Regions from separate parts of the Homo sapiens genome. Here regions 1 and 3 are each linked to region 2. Evidence: fine-mapped expression QTL. A gene starts in region 2. Each other region holds a variant in brackets. All regions are shown on one strand. Distances are between the middles of the regions. Region 1 overlaps HSD17B11 (hydroxysteroid 17-beta dehydrogenase 11). Region 2 holds the start of HSD17B11 (hydroxysteroid 17-beta dehydrogenase 11). Region 3 holds the start of MIR5705 (microRNA 5705).

Evidence for each region. PIP is the estimated chance that this variant, and not a neighbour inherited with it, causes the effect.
Region 1: its variant is fine-mapped to the expression of HSD17B11 in whole blood (TOPMed, PIP above 0.99).
Region 3: its variant is fine-mapped to the expression of HSD17B11 in whole blood (INTERVAL, PIP above 0.99).

The regions. Positions count from the first base shown.
Region 1 is chr4:87,361,687-87,368,670 of GRCh38, reverse strand. The region is part of intron 4 of HSD17B11 (hydroxysteroid 17-beta dehydrogenase 11); the gene reads left to right. Among named protein-coding and RNA genes, the nearest start is that of HSD17B11, 26 kb to the left of the region's middle. The variant G/A (reference allele first, on the strand shown) is at 3,414.
Region 2 is chr4:87,389,054-87,394,053 of GRCh38, reverse strand. It overlaps HSD17B11 (hydroxysteroid 17-beta dehydrogenase 11), which reads left to right and starts at 2,866. Exons shown (of 7, transcript NM_016245.5): 1 at 2,866-3,193. The coding sequence starts at 2,984. RefSeq lists enhancers at 1,999-2,571, 2,585-2,654.
Region 3 is chr4:87,298,213-87,305,196 of GRCh38, reverse strand. It overlaps HSD17B13 (hydroxysteroid 17-beta dehydrogenase 13), which reads left to right. Exons shown (of 7, transcript NM_178135.5): 7 at 1-1,403. It overlaps MIR5705 (microRNA 5705), which reads left to right and starts at 4,614; the gene lies at 4,614-4,702. The variant A/T (reference allele first, on the strand shown) is at 2,668.

The DNA of each region.
Region 1 (6,984 bases), 26 kb after region 2:
CTGACCTCCTATCTCATCCTGTGACTTAGAATGCGTTAACAGTCTGGGAATGCAGTCCGGTAGGTTTCAGCCTCATTTTACCCAGCTCCTATTCAAGATGGAGTTGTTCTGTTTCACATGCCTCTTGACATTTCCCCCTTCCCTTTTATAAGAGAACTCTTAATCCTAAGAGTTGCAGACGGATGAAAATCCATCTTTTGTAACTTCTTCAGGCTGAATGGGGCCATGATATTCCTGCCTAACTGTTAGGGTCTCTTGTGTTCAGGGTAGAGAGGAGCTTAGTCAGAAAGCATCAGTGTGGCGAGGGCCATTCATGACTCTTGAGTTTTTTGTGTGTGTGTTTTTTGTTTTTTTGAGATGGAGTCTCGCTCTGTCACCCAGGCTGGAGTGCAGTGGTGCGATCTCAGCTCGCTGCAAACTCTGCCTCCCGGGTTCATGCCATTCTCCTGCCTCAGCCTCCTGAGTAGCTGGGACTACAGGTGCCCGCCACCACACCCGGCTAATTTTTTGTATTTTTAGTAGAGACGGGATTTCACCATGTTAGCCAGGATGGTCTTGATCTCCTGACCTTGTGATCCACCCGCCTCGGCCCCCCAAAGTGCTGGGATTACAGGCATGAGCCACCGTGCCTAGCCGACTCTTGAGTTTTGACAAGAGGTGATATCTGGGAGATTAATAAGTATTTAGTTTAAGAAAACATTTAGTAAGCCTGTCCTGTGTTCCCACACAAAGGGTATAACAGCAATATATTCCATAAGAGTAAAGCAAAGTAAGTAAAGTTATTCCAAGTAAACTAAATTAGAAGGCTTTCCATGAACTGGGCAACTGTTGAGACCAAGCTGATATGGGGTTGCTAGCTGATTGCAATGTGCCTAGAATTTTACATTACCCATCCCTCTTGTTTCTTCTGAGCAGCAGTTAGAGATCCCTGGTTGGTTTACAGGAATAAACAGGGTTAGCCTAAATTGCAGAAACAAACTTAAAAACAACTGAGACTAGAATTTAATAACAAGTATACTATAGTTCTTGAAATATAATATTCTCTCTCCAGTTTCCCATTTTTATTAAAGACACATTATGGTAAGACTGATTTGCTTTATTATACTTGGTCTGATTATTTGTATAAAGTGCAGCGAGAATAATTATTTTTCACACAGGCTTTTTAATTGGCTTTGATGGAACTCTGTTTTATAAGGAATCTCAGGTAAGACTTTTTTAAAGCTAAGCCCTGCCATGGGTTTGTACCCTTAAATACCTATGAGTTGGGTAAAACACTTTTCTTTTGAGGTCCCAAGTTAACTTGGGCCTCCTGGACCTGTAAGAAAGTGACATTCTTTACTTACCATAGGTCAGAAACCCTGTACAGGGACTGTGTAGGCAAAGTATGAGGCCAGTTTCCCATAGGGCTTTTATTGGCTTTACAAGTCAAGTTTGATTCTTTAAAGGAAAGCACACCATTCCAGTCAAAGCCTTGGTAAAATAACCAATTTCTCCAATAGTGTCCCATTACAAAAGAAAACAGATTTTTGTTGCACTTATACAAACAACTATATTGCCATAAGTTAAGAATACTTACAATTGGTTTCCATTCCGGAGAAATCAGGTAGAGAGAAACAAATATGTTTCAAATTTTGTTCATAGGAGTATATTTTACTTAATTGCTGCAAGCTGTAAATAGCTTAAAAGAAGTTTCCTTTGAAAAATAAAAGATCAGCAATATTTTAAGCAAAGTTAAAAAAAATTACTTCAGTTTTCTATTGGTTCAGTTAATTCAGTTAACTCCTGTTCTACTTGTTATTCATGAACATTCCAGCTTTTTATGAGAGTTTCGAAAGTTGTTTTCTTTATTTTAATGTTACAATTTCTAAAGTTATTAGCAACCTGCATTTAAGAACATCTGCTAGAATTCTATAGTTGATTATAAACCACCTTTTAAAGAAGATTAAAACAAGACAACAACTGTCTGTGGATGATAAAAACTTTAGGACAGCCACTATTAAAGCCACAATTGATAAGGAAATTTGGTTACTTTTGTGGCATACAAAATTTTACATAACAATTATAATTATTAGTAACATACACTAAGTCATATTAGAAATAAAGGAGTTTCTTATAACTTTGGAACATATACCAATAACATATTTATACAAATATAGTCCAAAGAAAGCAAAACACTGTTTCACATTTGAGAATGCTTCCTGGATGATTTTTATACCAAATAAGCGAAATTTCACCTTTACATTAATGTATTATTAATGTTAAACCCAATTTTTAATAAAACCTTAGAGACATATTTACCCAATTTTAATGTTTAATCCTAAGGTAAGATTTTATAAACCTTTATAACCCTTTACATTTTTTTGTGAAAGCGCAGATAAGTCCTCTAAGAGAAACCTGTTGTGCTTTTATTCCAATGTTTAATTTATGGAAAAACTGAATAATACCCCTTTAACTTTAGCTAATATGTTCATACACAGAATCTCTTACAATTAATTTTTATAAACCTTCCACAAAGGCCAGGTGCAGTGGCTCACACCTGTATATCCCAACACTTTGGGAGGCCAAGATGGGTGGATCACCTGAGGTCGGAAGTTCAAGACCAGCCTGATCAACATGGAGAAACCCTGTCTCTACTAAAAATACAAAATTAGCCAGGCATGGTGGCACATGCCTGTAATCCCAGCTACCTGGGAGGCTGAGACAGAAGAATTGCTTGAACCCGGGAAGCAGAGGTTGCGGTGAGTCAAGATCACGCCATTGCACTCCAGCCTGGGCAACAAGAACAAAACTCCATCTAAAAAAAACCTTCCACAACTTCTTTAAATCTTTTTTTTTTTTTCACTTAACACAATCCTTTAACACTTTAATCTAGGCAGAAAATAATCCGCATTCCCATGCTTCTTCTTACAATTTTTTTTTTAACCAAAAACACATTTCACCTTTTTTATACACCTTGCATGTAAAACTGTTTCTTCAGTAGTCTTAATTACACATTACAATGCTAACTTCTAGCAACTTTTATTTTTGATGAAAACGTTGGTTAAGTAAGGGATTTTAATTATGTACTAGGTGTGGAGACTAGTCTAGGACACACCAGGCAGAAGTGCAGATAAGGGCTGACTCTCCAGCATAGCCAGGGGCATGAGGCCTTATCTAGAATCTGATGGCTTTAAAGTAGGTAAATAGAACAGTTTTCAAAAGTTAAAGAAACAGTTTGTCCTTAAAGCATTTAGCAAATCTGATATCTGACCTTAATTTAGACCAAATGTCTACATTTTTAAGACATTTTATTTTACCAATAAACTTTAAAACTGTCTTTATTTTCAAAAGATTACTAAAGTCACACGAACAAAAAGGCATTAGTTTCTATTTTTCTGAAAAAATATTTACGCACTTACTTTTCTAAGTCAATT[G/A]ATTAGAGCTTTGTAATATATAAACATACACTATAAATAGAAGATTCAGCACTTATACAGTTTTTCGTTTGCCAGTTTCTTTTTTTTTGAGACAAAGTTTCGCTCTTGTCACCCAGGCTGGAGTGCAGTGGCATGATCTTGGCTCACTGCAACCTCTGCCTCCCAGGTTCAAGTGATTCTCATGCCTCAGCCTCCCGCGTAGCTGGGATTACAGGCGCCCACCACCACACCCAGCTAATTTTTGTATTTTTACTAGAGACGGGTTTTCCCCATGTTGGCCAGGCTGGTCTTGAACTCCTGACCTCAAGTGATCCGCCCACCTCAGCCTCCCAAAGTGCTGGGATTACAGGCATGAGCCACCTCGCCCCACCATTTGCCAGTTTCTTAATTGGATGACAGGTTTCAGAGTGGAGCCCTTGGAGGAACAGAGCTGGGACAGCATGCATTTCTAGGGCTAAATAAGTAGCAAATAAGCAGCTGAAGGCAGACAGATCTCCAAAATTAAAGGTGGTATTTTATACTGGATCCTGGATCCCCAAAAGGAGGGAAATACTACGGGAGAAGACAATGCAGTGCTTTTACCGACTGTGCATTTCATTGCAAGGCAACCTAAAGCCAATCAGCCCATTTTGTAATCAGCCCATCCTCATGAGAGTCTCATCTCCCAGTGAGGGGTGAGGATGTTGCCTTATCTTCCAGGTGGCCTAGAGCATGCTTCTCTGATCCAAGTGTGCAGAGTCAAGTATCCCTCCATAACTACTATTAGCCACCCCTTAAAGTACATTTCCTACCTAGTTGTTACACACCAAAGCTCTCTCATAATGCAAAGTAATTGCTGATAACCCCCCTCCCCCAAACTCAAAACCGTCAGATAACACAATGCAAAACAGAACAGAGCCTTTGATTTTGAGAGGAATCTATCTGCTTTTAATTCTTGGGGTCTCATGAGGAAAACAGAGGGGTTTTTTTTCTTTTTTTTTTTTTTTTCCCAAAACTGGATCTGTGGTGCTGCCTTTGTTTTTCCCAAGTAGTCCCAAGCTACCAGAAGTTATCTACGGGCCTTTCATGTGAGCATTAATAGTAACAAGACAAAACAAAACAAAACAAAACAAAAAAACAAAAATAATTCACTTGACTGAGAAGAAAAAACCTTTTTCCAGCAAAACAAGCTTCAAGAAGAGAAAAACATAAAGGCCTTTTAAATATATTTATAGCTTATTCCACTTTTAATTAAGCTGACTTTTCACCATAGTGCTCTTTAAAGAAGAAATCCTTTCAGAGCTCTTATTACCCGACTTTAGCCATGCCAAGCGGCCAATATTTCCAGCTTCTGAACTTTACCAAAGGTAAACTCCTAGGTGCTTAGAAGAAGGAAAATTGAAGACAGTCCATGGAGGAGAAGAGAATAGACACATATATTAAATCAGTAATGACTTATTTCCTGGGTGGGGAATTGAACCTAGACTGCCACTGTGAAAGTGCAAAACCTTAGCTACTGAGCTACAGGTCTGGGCAGTGTCTATTTCTTTTCTCAGAAGTAGTCTAGATTAGTTAATTTTGAGCTTGCAAAGGCTTTTAACTATTTAATATGATTTTCAGAGCTGGCTATGACATGAACTTTAAAATTCTTGTTCCCTGGAAGACAGAGCCCAAGAGAAGGTACTGCCATGCGGTTAAAAGGTCAAGCTCCCAAGCACATAAAACAAGGTGGAGACTTCATCGGGTTTTTTGTTTGTTTCAGGGACCTGCAACCAAGTTTGTTACTGACCAGCTTGCTGGGTAGTCTTGAAAAGCGGGCTTACAGGTGTTCTAAGCCCATGTTTTATCCTGAAGTACCCCTCTACACGGAAAAACGAATTCATAGCACAAAATACACCAGCTTAAGACTAGCCTTAGAATTCTTTTTCGCATTAATTAAGTCTTTACAGAGGTGATAAACACTGATTTTTTTTCCATTCATTCAACTGTTTGCACAGAGAGAGAGAAGCTAAAAATCTGACTGGTAACAAATTCTTAGCCTTTTGCTGGCATGCCAGGCTTCTGGGTTCCTTTTCCCTGAGCAGCCCTAGTGATCGGGCTTGTGGCACCATCTCCCCGGGGGCCAAGCTGCATCATAAAGGAAAAAAATTTTTTTTTTCATTTTGACCAGAGCAAAATATGCATGATAAAACATAGACATTAGCTACTCTGCTTAGCACCCAATATCAAACTGGCAAGGCTTAAATTTACCCCCAGTTGGGCCCCATCATCTTTAATCCAACCTCTGACTTGGAATTTCAACATGTGGTCTCTGGGCAAGAAGGTCGCCCTGAGAAATAGAAAAGATAAGAAAGGGAAAGGAAAAGTAGAGACGGAAAGTATTGCCTGTGGCAGGGTGGGGAAGGCAAAATGATCAGGGAGGCCAGAGAAAGACCCACCTATTGCAGCAACACTGAAAACTTCAGGCTGCTGCTGTCGGTTGAGCAGGGATCTTTTTCAGCAATCCTGTCAGCTCTCAAGTTTCCCCTTTTAGGCAGGAAAAAGCTCCCCATGTCCCACGATCCTGTGCATGCCTAACCCTGTCACCCATAGCCATCAGCAAAGAGTACAAAGGCAGATTAATCCAAAGAGAACAGCAGTTAACATCCCATAGTGCCAAACCTGTTCTTAGCTGAAAGGGACTTTACTGAGAGGGTCCTCTAACCCCCTAAATCTTATTCATTTTATTTATTATTTTATTATATTTTATTTTTGAGATGGAGTCTCGCTCTGTTGGCCAGGCTGGAGTGCAGCAGCACAATCTCGGCTCACTGCAACCTCGGCCTCCCGGGTTCAAGCAATTCTCCTGCCTCAGTGTCCTGAGTAGCTGGGATTACAGGCATGCATCACCACGTCTGGCTAATTTTTGTATTTTTAGTAGAGACCGGGTTTCACCGTGTTGGCCAAGCTGGTCTCGAACTCCTGACCTCAAGTGATCCACCCGCCTTGGCCTCCCACAGTGCTGGGGATTACAGGCGTGAGCCACTGCACCTGGCCTAACCTCCTAAATCTTAGAAGGGACTCTAATCCTCCTAAGTCAGGCCTCTAACTTGACGTCAGTCAAGTGTCCTTGCCTTTTATTAAGAAGGACCTGTAACCCACTCTGTCTTAGGAGAGACTCTAACTCCCCTAAGTTGGGCCTCTAACCCAATCCCATTCTTTACCCAGGTGTAGGCACCCCACTTACTCAAAGTCAGCCCACTGTTGTGCCCTGATGATTTTCCTTTGGGTCAGGGGTCTCTTCAGTATTGTAACTCTATGGTCTGCCAGAAATATGTTACAGGACCCCAACACTTACCCAAAGGTAGCCATAGGGTCAGGGTTTCTGCACTTTAGTCCCTTCGTGGTTGCCAGAAAGATGTTACCAGAAAGGGGTCCCGATCCAGACCCCAAGAGAGGGTTCTTGGATCTCATGAAAGAAAGAATTCAGGGTGAGTCCACAGTGCAAAGTGAAAGAAAGTTTATTTATTTTTGAGACAGAGTCTCGCTCTGTTGCCCATGATGGAGTGCAGCGGCGCGATCTCAGCTCACTGCAAGCTCCGCCTCCCGGGTT
Region 2 (5,000 bases):
TTCTGGTTCAAGTTAGGGTTTAAAAAAAAAAATTAAAGAAAAATACCCCCTTATCCTTATCTTTTTTTTTTTTTTTTAAATACTATTTCAACTTCTGGGAAGGCAGCATGTAATTAAGATGCCCCACATAGGCTGGGTGCAGTGGCTCGCACTTGTAATCCTAGCACTTTGGGAGGCCAAGGCCGGTGAATTGGTTGAGCCCAGGAGTTCAAGACCAGCCTCTACCAGGGTAGGGACACCCTGCCTCTATCAAAAATACAAAAATTAGCTAGTCTCATAATCCGGTCTCAAAATAAATAGATAAAAAATTTTTTAAAAAACAGATGTCCCAAGTACAAAATATTTTAAACCCTACCAATGAAAGATGTTTTTTAAAACCACAAATACATAAAATCACATAGTGGTCAGATAGAAGCTAATCTGTGTTCTAACTGTGAATGATTTTAATTGTAAACATCTAGTTTGCTGTTCACAAAATCATGTTACAACCATCATTCACAAGACCATTCACATCACTCACATTCTATTGGTGTTAATTATAATTTACATAAAGTTGAATAGTTGATAAAGCAATGTGCTTTCTATTAACTCGTTTGAACGTCACAAGAATCCTGTAGGGTAAGTATTATTTCAATTTTACAAATTTAGAAACATGTTTAGAGAGATGAAGTCACATACACATAAGGGATTCAGGTACGACTGCGTCCAAATGCTGTGTTCTTTCCCTTAACCAATGAAACCTTGATCAACTGTAGGTTAAAACTACCCAGTTTTTTTTAATTAATAGAATGGAATAAGAAATAGCATAGCCAGACCGTGTGCCATGGCTCACGCCTGTAATCCCAGCACTTGGGAAGACCAAGGTGGGTGGAACAGGAGATCGAGATTGAGACCATCCTAGCCAACATGGGGAAACCCTGTCTACTAAAAATACAAAAATTAGCTGGGTGTGGTGGTGCGTGCCTGTAGTCCCAGCTACTTGGGAGGCTGAGGCAGGAGAATCGCTTGAACCTGGGAGGTGGAGGTTGAGGTTGCTGTGAGCCAAGATTTCGCCACTGCACTCCAGCCTGGAGACAGAGGGAGACTCCTTTAAAAAAAAAAAAAATAGCATAGCTAGAGCCTCAATATATGAAACTCAACATAGTTGAAACACTTCTTATAGTAGATCACCATGTCAGATGTAATTTATTCCTGTAGGTGTTGGACCAAAAAATTGACAAACACTGAACATATGTGTAGCCCCAGTTACACTTTTACTCACTGTGTAGATTTTAAAGTTGATCTAACAGATTTATTCATTTACAGTATAGGTATAAATATATCCTGACTCTACTTTTCTCTATTTCCTAGGAGGCTTTTGAAAATCAAATGAAATAATATATGTGGAAGAACACTTTGTAAACTTTCTATACAAGTGTTTTGTAAATTTGGATTTGGAGGCTATCCAAAAAAAAGTTGTAGATATTCTGAATTCAAAGAATTCTATAATGGGGTTCACTTTTGTGAGGCTGCCACTATCCCTTCATCCCCTATAACAACGTATGGCTGCTTAAGTAAGAGGGACAATCGAGTTTGAACTATTTGTGAACTTTGATTTTTTTGTGTGATCTTTCTGGCTCTTAAATATGAAAGTTGACTATTGTCACACAACAAAGTCCCTTCCCAAGCACTGGAGTGTCTTGCGCAAAACCCAAATCCAATGTCTGTCAAAAATGAGTTGGAAAAAAATGCATGCAATACCATTATTAAGCTCTTACTGGACACAAGCCCTAGTTAGGTCTTTTCTTCCAGTAACCAATCTCTAGAATTTTTTCAAGTCACTAGTTAGCATATACTGAATACCCATTTATATAGGCTACAAAACCAAATGTTACATAGGTAATCTTTAGGCTAAATGATTTGCTATTTATTCACTTGAATAAAGATAAAATTCCTAAAGTACAACATATATTTTTTATTTTCAAACTCTAATAGGTCAAGTGAAAAATGATTATTCAAATATACTCTTCTTTCTTGTGGAAACAATCCCTTTAATACGATAACAATTTTTTCTGGCGCTTGATTGAAGCTGTCCTTGAACAGACAAAATTTCCCCTGTCTTCCAGAAATCGTGCTTAGTTCAAACTAAAATGTGATGTAGCGCAATTTCTCAGCTGGAAGCAGAACGATTGGTCTTTTCAGGATCCTTTAAGATAGGAATCTACATTTGCATCCTCTATCTAGTTTTTGTTTTTTAGGACAAAGTCTGGCCTTTTCGTCCAGGCTGGAGTGCAGTGGCGCGATCTTCACTCACTGTAGCCTCCACCTCCTGGACTCAAGCAATTCCCGTGCCTCAGTCTCTCGAGTAGCTGGAACTACAGGCACACGCCACTACGCCTGGCTAATTAAAAAAAAAAAAAAAGAGACCGGGGGTCTCCCTATGTTGTTCAGGCTGATCTCGAACTCCTGGGGTCAAGCGATCCTCCCGCCAGGGCTTCTCAAAGTGCCAGGATCACAGGCGAGAGCCGCCGCGCCCAGCGGCACCCCCTATCTAGTGATAAGCAACCTTCAACTATGAAAGAAGCATCTGGCCTGTGGACACTGTCGGTTATCCTTGGAACTTATCCAATTTAGGAAAACAAGTGAGCAACTAACCCTCCAAGGCCGGCTCACGACACCGGGAGAAAGTGGTGTAAAAGACAATCGCGGCCACACACCGCGTGGGGGCTGCGCAAAGCAGAACTAGGAAGCTTTGCTCCGGTCTGGACTTCGTCCCTCCCAGATCTCTGAGCTAGCAAGCACTGCAGCCCGAGCCAATTGCGAAAGACCAACAAAGCCCAGCCCAGCGGAAGGAACGGTTTCGGAGTTGTTTTTCTTTGATACGGGAGTTCCTCCTTGCTCTCGCCCCTACTCTTTCTGGTGTTAGATCGAGCTACCCTCTAAAAGCAGTTTAGAGTGGTAAAAAAAAAAAAAAACACACCAAACGCTCGCAGCCACAAAAGGGATGAAATTTCTTCTGGACATCCTCCTGCTTCTCCCGTTACTGATCGTCTGCTCCCTAGAGTCCTTCGTGAAGCTTTTTATTCCTAAGAGGAGAAAATCAGTCACCGGCGAAATCGTGCTGATTACAGGAGCTGGGCATGGAATTGGGAGACTGACTGCCTATGAATTTGCTAAACTTAAAAGCAAGCTGGTTCTCTGGGATATAAATAAGGTAACAGTGTTTACTATGTTTTACTTTCTGGTACCTTTAATTTGTGGATGTGTCTGCATTTTGCTGGCAACCACCCTTTACCTCATCTCTGCAAAGCAGGGAGGAAAAAAAAATTAGTATTGCCATTTTGCAGATGGGAGGGCATGAATTAATATGTTGTATGATCACATGATAAACAGACCTAGAGGTTATAATAGTCCCAGTTACTGCCCCATTTGTAAATTGATCCCCATTTTTGCCCTAAGGATAACTCATAATTTTTTCCTGAACCTGATTTCATTGATCCCTCTATTTTAAAAATAGGGAAAAAACAATCGTTTTAGCTATATATTAAAAGAGTAAGAAGCTTGTACCTATTAAGAGAAAGTCCTACTTACTGTTAATGAGAAAAGTGGTTTGAAAGATTATACTCGCCGTTGGCTCACGCCTGTAATCCCAGCACTTTGGGAGTCCAAGGCAGGCGGATCGCGAGGTCAGGAGATCGAGACCATCCTAACACACTGAAACCCCGTCTCTACTAAAAATACCAAAAAAAAATTAGCCGGGCGTGGTGGCGGGCGTCTGTAGTCCCAGCTATTGGGGAGGCTGAGGCAGGAGAATGGCGGGAACCCCGCGGGGCGGAGGTTGCAGTGAGCCAAGATGGCGCCACTGCACTTCAGCCTGGGCGACAGAGCTAGACTCCGTCTCAAAAAACAAACAAAAAGATTATACTCAACAGAAACCAATGCTACATTGCCATAGTTATTGCCAAGAGTAATTTTAAAAAGCATCTTTTCCGGGAGGCTGAGGTGGGGGGTTGCTTGAGCCTGGGAGGTGGAGACTGCAGTGAGCTGTAAACGCCCCACTGCACTCCAGCCTGGGTGACAGAGTGAGACCCTGTCTCAAATTTTTTTAAAAAACATTTTTTACCACGTTTGACCTGTGATACTGAAGGAGTGGCGGGAAAGCATCTTTTAGTAAAAACAATAAAAGGGAAAAAAACTTTCAGTGTAATTTTTTACCTAGGACAAGTGTAGGTGTGGCTTAGGGAGGAGAAGAGGACCTAGAATCCAACCTTTTATTTGACCTTTGGTAGATGAACAAAGGGGTTTCTAGAAGATACCTGATGGCCTGAAACATTATCCATTACACACTAGTTGACATGCAATGCTGTAAACAATAATTCAAAGGATGTGAAGTTAAATGAGGGTTAACCCAGTGAGTGGCTGATGAAGACAGCAATCAACAAATAATGACTGTCTGCTGCTTAGACATTAGGGATAGGGTGACAAACAGAAAATAAGGTTCCATGACCTCAGTCTAGTAGGGAAAATGGACATTAAGTAATTACAAGTGCAGGCTGGATGCGGTGGCTCACACTTGTAATCCCAGCACTTTTGGAGGCCGAGGCGGGCAGATGACCTGAGGTCAGGAGTTCAAGACCAGCCTGGCTAACATGGTGAAACCCCATTTCTACCAAAAATACAAAAAATTAGTTGAGCGTGGTGGCGTGTACTTGTAATCCCAGCTACTCATGAGGCTGAGGCAGGAGAACTGCTTGAACCTGGGAGGCAGAGGTTGCAGTGAGCCGAGATCATGCCATTGCATTCCAGCTTGGGCAACAAGAGCAAAACTCTGTCTTAAAAATAAATAAATTAATTAAATTAAATTAATAAATAAAAAAGTAATTACAAGAGCAATGAAAAATACAACCCAGGTCCAGCCTGGACCAGCATGGTCAAGGTCTGGCATGGTGATATAGTCAGACACATCTGAGCTTTCGTTTTCTGATTGGGTAACTTACTCAACGTTTCCACAGCTTTAGTTC
Region 3 (6,984 bases), 90 kb after region 2:
ATGTATGCATGATAATGATATGAATAGTTTCGAATCAATGCTGCAAAGCTTTATTTCACATTTTTTCAGTCCTGATAATATTAAAAACATTGGTTTGGCACTAGCAGCAGTCAAACGAACAAGATTAATTACCTGTCTTCCTGTTTCTCAAGAATATTTACGTAGTTTTTCATAGGTCTGTTTTTCCTTTCATGCCTCTTAAAAACTTCTGTGCTTACATAAACATACTTAAAAGGTTTTCTTTAAGATATTTTATTTTTCCATTTAAAGGTGGACAAAAGCTACCTCCCTAAAAGTAAATACAAAGAGAACTTATTTACACAGGGAAGGTTTAAGACTGTTCAAGTAGCATTCCAATCTGTAGCCATGCCACAGAATATCAACAAGAACACAGAATGAGTGCACAGCTAAGAGATCAAGTTTCAGCAGGCAGCTTTATCTCAACCTGGACATATTTTAAGATTCAGCATTTGAAAGATTTCCCTAGCCTCTTCCTTTTTCATTAGCCCAAAACGGTGCAACTCTATTCTGGACTTTATTACTTGATTCTGTCTTCTGTATAACTCTGAAGTCCACCAAAAGTGGACCCTCTATATTTCCTCCCTTTTTATAGTCTTATAAGATACATTATGAAAGGTGACCGACTCTATTTTAAATCTCAGAATTTTAAGTTCTAGCCCCATGATAACCTTTTTCTTTGTAATTTATGCTTTCATATATCCTTGGTCCCAGAGATGTTTAGACAATTTTAGGCTCAAAAATTAAAGCTAACACAGGAAAAGGAACTGTACTGGCTATTACATAAGAAACAATGGACCCAAGAGAAGAAAAGGAAGAAAGAAAGGTTTTTTGGTTTTTGTTTTGTTTTGTTTTGTTTTTTGTTTTTTTGAGATGGAGTCTCACTCTTTCGCCCAGGCTGGAGTGCAGTGGTATGATCTCAGCTCACTGCAAGCTCCACCTCCCGGGTTCACGCCATTCTCCTGCCTCAGCCTCCTGAGTAGCTGGGACTACAGGCGCCCGCCACCACACCCGGCTAATTTTTTGTATTTTTTGTAGAGACGGGGTTTCACCATGTTAGCCAAGATGGTCTCGATCTCCTGACCTCGTGATCCACCTGCCTCGGCCTCCCAAAGTGCTGGGATTACGGGTGTGAGCCACCGTGCCCAGCCTTTTTTTTTTTAATAGAAAAAATAATCCGACTCCCACTACATCAAGACTAATCTTGTTTTGTGTGTTTTTCACATGTATTATAGAATGCTTTTGCATGGACTATCCTCTTGTTTTTATTAAAAACAAATGATTTTTTTAAAAGTCACAAAAACAATTCACTAAAAATAAATATGTCATTGTGCTTTAAAAAAATAACCTCTTGTAGTTATAAAATAAAACGTTTGACTTCTAAACTCTGTCTCTATGAGTGTCCTTCAAGAACCAAGGATGTGGATGGTAACAGCTACATCTGGCAGTTATTAAATGAATCCAGGGGTTTTCTCAACTCTGGTTTCTTTGACAGCAGGAGTGCTGGTTTATCAACTGGAACTTACTGACCCCTTTCTATGTGTGAGATTAAGCACAGTGCTATTGTTTCTAATTTTTTTTCTTAGTCACCGGCAATAATTTTTTTCATAACATTCTTTTAATTTCTTGCCTTATAATCAAGAAATTTATGAGTAAAATGTATTATTTTTAAAGTATGGTTACAAAAATTCAAAAGAGAAACATGGAAAGTAAAAAATAGAAGCTTACCCCCAGCAATCCCATTTCCCAGAGGTCACACTGTCAATGCACAATCTTCCAGTCTTTTACTGATGCATGTTCATGACAAATACATTATATTCTTATTGCATGGGTCGTATCAGTAGTTTCATACCATACATTATGTTCTGTAACTTGCTCTTTTAGCTTACCAACTTATCACAAACAGCTGTTTGTTTCAGTATAGAGAATTCAACTTTTTTTCATGAGTACACAGTACTAAAATGGTACTCTAACCATTCCCTTTTGATAGGCACTTAGGATGTTTCCAGTATTTCTTAGTTCATCTATTTAAATATTAATTTAACAAATACTGAGTGCCCTCAAAGTTCTAGGCCCAGGGAAACATATATGAATAAGGCAAACTCCTTGTCTTAACAGAGCTCACATTCTAGTAGGTGGGACAAACAATAAAGGGACTGCAAATATGAGAGAGAGCATTTAAAGTAGTAGAGTCAGGGAAGAGCACGCTGAGAAAGAACATTTTGCGGACGAACTATTACCATACACAGGCAACTAAAAAATATTTTATGATATACATATTGACAAAAATAGAAACCTCTTAAATTCCAGTGTTAAGTTCAGAGCAGAAAACTTCTTATTTTAATTCCATTTTGGTTTTAATCTTTTATGAATGAAGCTCAGAGAAATGTGCGAGCAAAATATTCATCTCTCTTTGTCCATTTTTCTTGCTTATTTTGAGTGTAGTCCTCCTCCTTAAAAGTTCCACCTGCAGCCAGGCGTGGTGACTCATGCTTGTAATCCTAGCACTTTGGGAGGCCAAGGGGGGCAGATCACCTGAGGTCAGGGGTTCGAGACCAGCCTGGCCAACAAGGCGAAACCCTGTCTCTACTAAATATACAAAATTTAGCTGGGCATGGTGGTACATGCCTGTAATCCCAGCTACTCAGG[A/T]GGCTGAGGCAGGAGAATCACTTGAACCTGGGAGGCGGAGGTTGCAGTGAGCTAAGATCACGCCACCGCACTCCAGCCTGGGCAACAGAGTGAGACTCCGTCTCAAAAAAATAAAAAGCTCCACCTGAGCTTCCAAATGTTTTCCTATGACAATCTTCATCTATAATTCTCTCTAAGAGCCCTCTCTTTCACCAAAATCCCAGTTCCAAGGGCTACTGCTAGGATGTGCAGATCACCAGACAAATATTTTTTTGCAGGGCTTCTATCTATATAAACACTTTTATTAAAAATGCTTTATAAAATTTATAGGTCCATGTGCATGCAGTATAGTGATTTTTTGATAAAGATTTAGAATAATAGGAAGATTTGTGTATTTATTGTCCGAGCAGTACATGTAAAGATTCTTCTCGGCATCCTGGTACTATCTCTTTGGTCCAGGAATCATTTCTTTTTTATCAAATGAGCCATTCCTAGCTAATTTCATATCTTTTACCACAAGAAAGGGTAGCAATGCTGTTATTATTCATAATGCCATGGCTCTTTGTAATATGTTTGTAATAAAATAATATGAATCTTCACCCCTTTCCAATACCCTGCTACCATTTATTTAATCTTAGCTACATTATGCCTTTTGACATTGCATCATCCATTGTGCTACCCATGAATACTGGGTATCACTCAGAGACAATCACTCAAAGATTGTTACTGGTACAACACAGTTCAATATAGTACAATTGTTACTGGTACAATGTTTGATGATAATCACAAATTCAAGTCTTACCCAGGGTATATATACGAGAAAACATGAATGATTCGTTGTTTATTGCTCATTTTAAATTTATCATTTAGAATGTTATAGCATCACATAGAACAACACATCTTTCAACTGTGTCTTGTCTTGAACTTTTTAGGCCATCATCATTACATTTCTAGAATTGATCTCTGCCACTCCTGACCGTACCCTACCTCCCACACACCACCAGCAGCAGAGAGGGGATTGTGGACAGAACAAAATGAACAGCCCCATTTGCACAAGGAATGTCTGTCCCTCCTCTAGGAGAGCTTAACATTGACCAGGGAGAAGAGAACACAGCATCATCACATCAGTCAGAAAGGCCCACTGTTGTGAAGAAGCAATAGTCTTAAAAGCCCTCAGAAGAGATAAGTGCAGCCACCCCCCAACCCCCAGCCAAAAGGACTGCCTGACCCATGGCATAGAACCTGCAGAGGGGATAGGATGATTTTCCTGAATGCCATTGGCAAGCGGGGTAAGGACATCTGATGTCACCCTGCAGCCCTTGGATGTTATATAGCAGAAGTGGCATCATACTCAGAACAAACTGCGAGTGGATGCATGGGTCAACACATGCGGCTTGGGCAGTGGACCTTAGATAGCTTACAACCCTAAATTAGATCTATGCCCAATGTGAGTGAGAATTATCCAAAATCAGCATGTCAGCATCATTCTGGCAGCCAAATTTCATGTAATCCTGCAAAAGAAATTCTTTGCCAACCAGAAGTAGCAGTCTGCTCTCCAGGCCACCCTCCTGAAACGAAAGCCTGGAAACAAGACCCCAGGATGATCCTATAGTTACAAGTTGCAGAGCTCCCCAGGATATCTGGTCAACCTTATACACAGGGAGAGAAAGGGAGAGTACCCCAGAGAGAAAAAACAGAGCAGGCATCCGAAGAGGACTTGGAAAATTTCATAGAGGGCACTCCAAAGAATAAGGCTCTATGAGGCACAGGACTGGGGTAAGGCCCTCACTTGCTCAGATCTGAGGGTGGTATAGGTACAGCCAATCTTCAACTGTATGCAAAGCTTAAAGGAGTAGCAGAGTAAATGTATGGTTGAAGAGAAAATGCTTGGTTAGTTTCTAATCTAAATCTTATATGATCTATATAATAATGTTTCCAAAGATGGAATGAACATCTAACATTAAAGTTCCCCATTTACACAGGCCATGAGCCCCGAAACACCCATCCCAGGATTGCTGATGGGTGTTTCGGGGCTCATGGCCTGTGTAAATGGGGAAGTTTAAACATGCCCTTGCAGCATGGCTGCCGCATGAGAGGCATGTTGGAAATACAAACTGTTGCAACCCATCTCAAACTTACAAAATCAGAATCTGCATTTTTTAAAAACTCCTAGGTAATTCATATGTTTTAGAGGCATCTTTTTTTATAACACTAACTTTGAATTTAGTGCAGCATTATGTGAACTGGGCTGTTCTGTACATGTGATAATTACAACGAATTTAACAGTTACCCTTGTGTTTATGTCTTCACAAATTACGTGAGAAACCGTAAGGGGGAAATGCCAATCCCTGTCCTAAGAGTGCTCTCACGCTTTCTACTATTTGCTTCCTCTTGTGTCTAAAAGTTTTCAGACAGCTCATGACCTTTTCTATTCAGCTCTTCAAATCTGCCAAGTGTTTTGCTGAAACCCCTTCTTTATCTGATTGGATGTATTACATCTGATCAAATTTGCCTGTCAGCTGCTTGCAGCAAGGGTGGAATTACAGGAAAGTTAAGTGGGAACTTACTTGTATTTAATGGGAATCTTTTATAGTAAAAGTAATCACAGTGAAATCAAAGCAAGTACATTCTGACTTGCCTAGGGTGCAATCATGTCTCATTCAAACTAACTTCACAAACCCAGTGAGCAGCTAGAGAATATTCATAAATTCACATCAAAACACTTATGAAAAGTGAAGTCATTTACCAATTGCACTCCAGTAATGATCCATTATCTCAATAGAGATCTTCTTACTTTTAAATGTGAGGCTAACTTGTATAAATTAAGACTTAAATATTCCCAAACAACACTGAAAACCAAATTGCCTGTTCCCATACCTAATTCCAATAACTAGGATTTTTCACTTTTTTTTTTTTCTTTTTGAGACAGAGTCTCACTTTGTCACCCAGGCTGGAGTGCAGTGGTGTGATCTTGGCTCACTGCAGCCTCCATTTCCCGGGTTCAAGGGATTCTCCAGCCTCAGCCTCCTGAGTACCTGGGTTTATAGGCATGCACCACTACATCCAGCTAATTTTTGTACTTTTAGTAGAGACAGGGTTTCACTATGTTGGCCAGACTGGTCTCGAACTCCTGGCCTCCAGTGATCAGCCCGCCTCGGCCTCCCAAAGTGCTGAGATTATGGGCGTGAGTCACTGCACCCAGCCCTGGATTTTTTGACTTTCTGTTTCTCAACACCTCTTTCCTTCTGATGGCTCTTTACTAATTAGTTCAGACTTCGTTCAATTAATTTGATGCATTTAGTTCTCTACTTCTCTTCCATTGTTCTCTTTCTCTTTTCAGCCTTCTCTTTCTAAGCTTCTCCCCACATTCTAATCTAGTCTGGAAACATAGCCTATTTTTCAGTCATCAAAACTATCCTGTATTACCTATGTAGCAGGAAAAAAAAAAAGACCACTTGATGTTGAATTCAATTTGGAATGATGTGATTTAAATATTTCAAACAATATTGCAGTTCCAGTGTACCTTGTTATCTAACAATATTGCACATTTGAGAGTATTATTTTCTATGCTGGTGAATTTAATGTAGAAATATTCAAGATAAACTACAACAACTCATAGACTTTTTCAAGCCAAAACAAGGCTTTTTCTACAATTCATTCAAGAAAAGATATTCACTCGGCAACTTTGATAGGAAATACATGATGCTAGAATGTAGAAAAATCAGAGAGGAAGATGTGATCCTTGCTTTAAAGATGTTTACAACAGATCAGCTAATCCAGCCTGTTTGTAAATAACAACTCACTCAAAGAAAAATAGGGTTAGTCCCTTTGAAAAGTTACTAACCAAGTGCTTTGTGAATAGACAGCATGATTAATTTGGGTGACAGGGCAAATCTTTGCTGAGGAGATGCAATTAAAGATATTAAAGAGGAGGAGGTGCAAGAATATGCCACAGGGAACAAACATGCATGTTGGTACAAAATGTTTTACAAGTTGTGCGTTTGTAGCATGGTAAGTCATCCAGGGTCAACATGGATCATGCACCTGGGAATCTGGGGGAATAACAGCTTGGAAAAGATGTTTGGGGCCCAACAGTACAGAGTTTCAAAAAACATGTTGACAGATTTGGATTTTATTGAGGCAAGCCATGCAAGAGTAGAGTACATAAAACCAACGAGATCAGATCTGTGGTTGAGAAAGACAAAACTAGCACTGAAGTGGAGGATAGAGCACAGAAGAAAATAGTAAGTTATAAAATAACCAATTTATAAATAAAGATAAATATATGTATGCTATTAAATTTCACAATACAGGCATATATACAGTCACAATATAAAA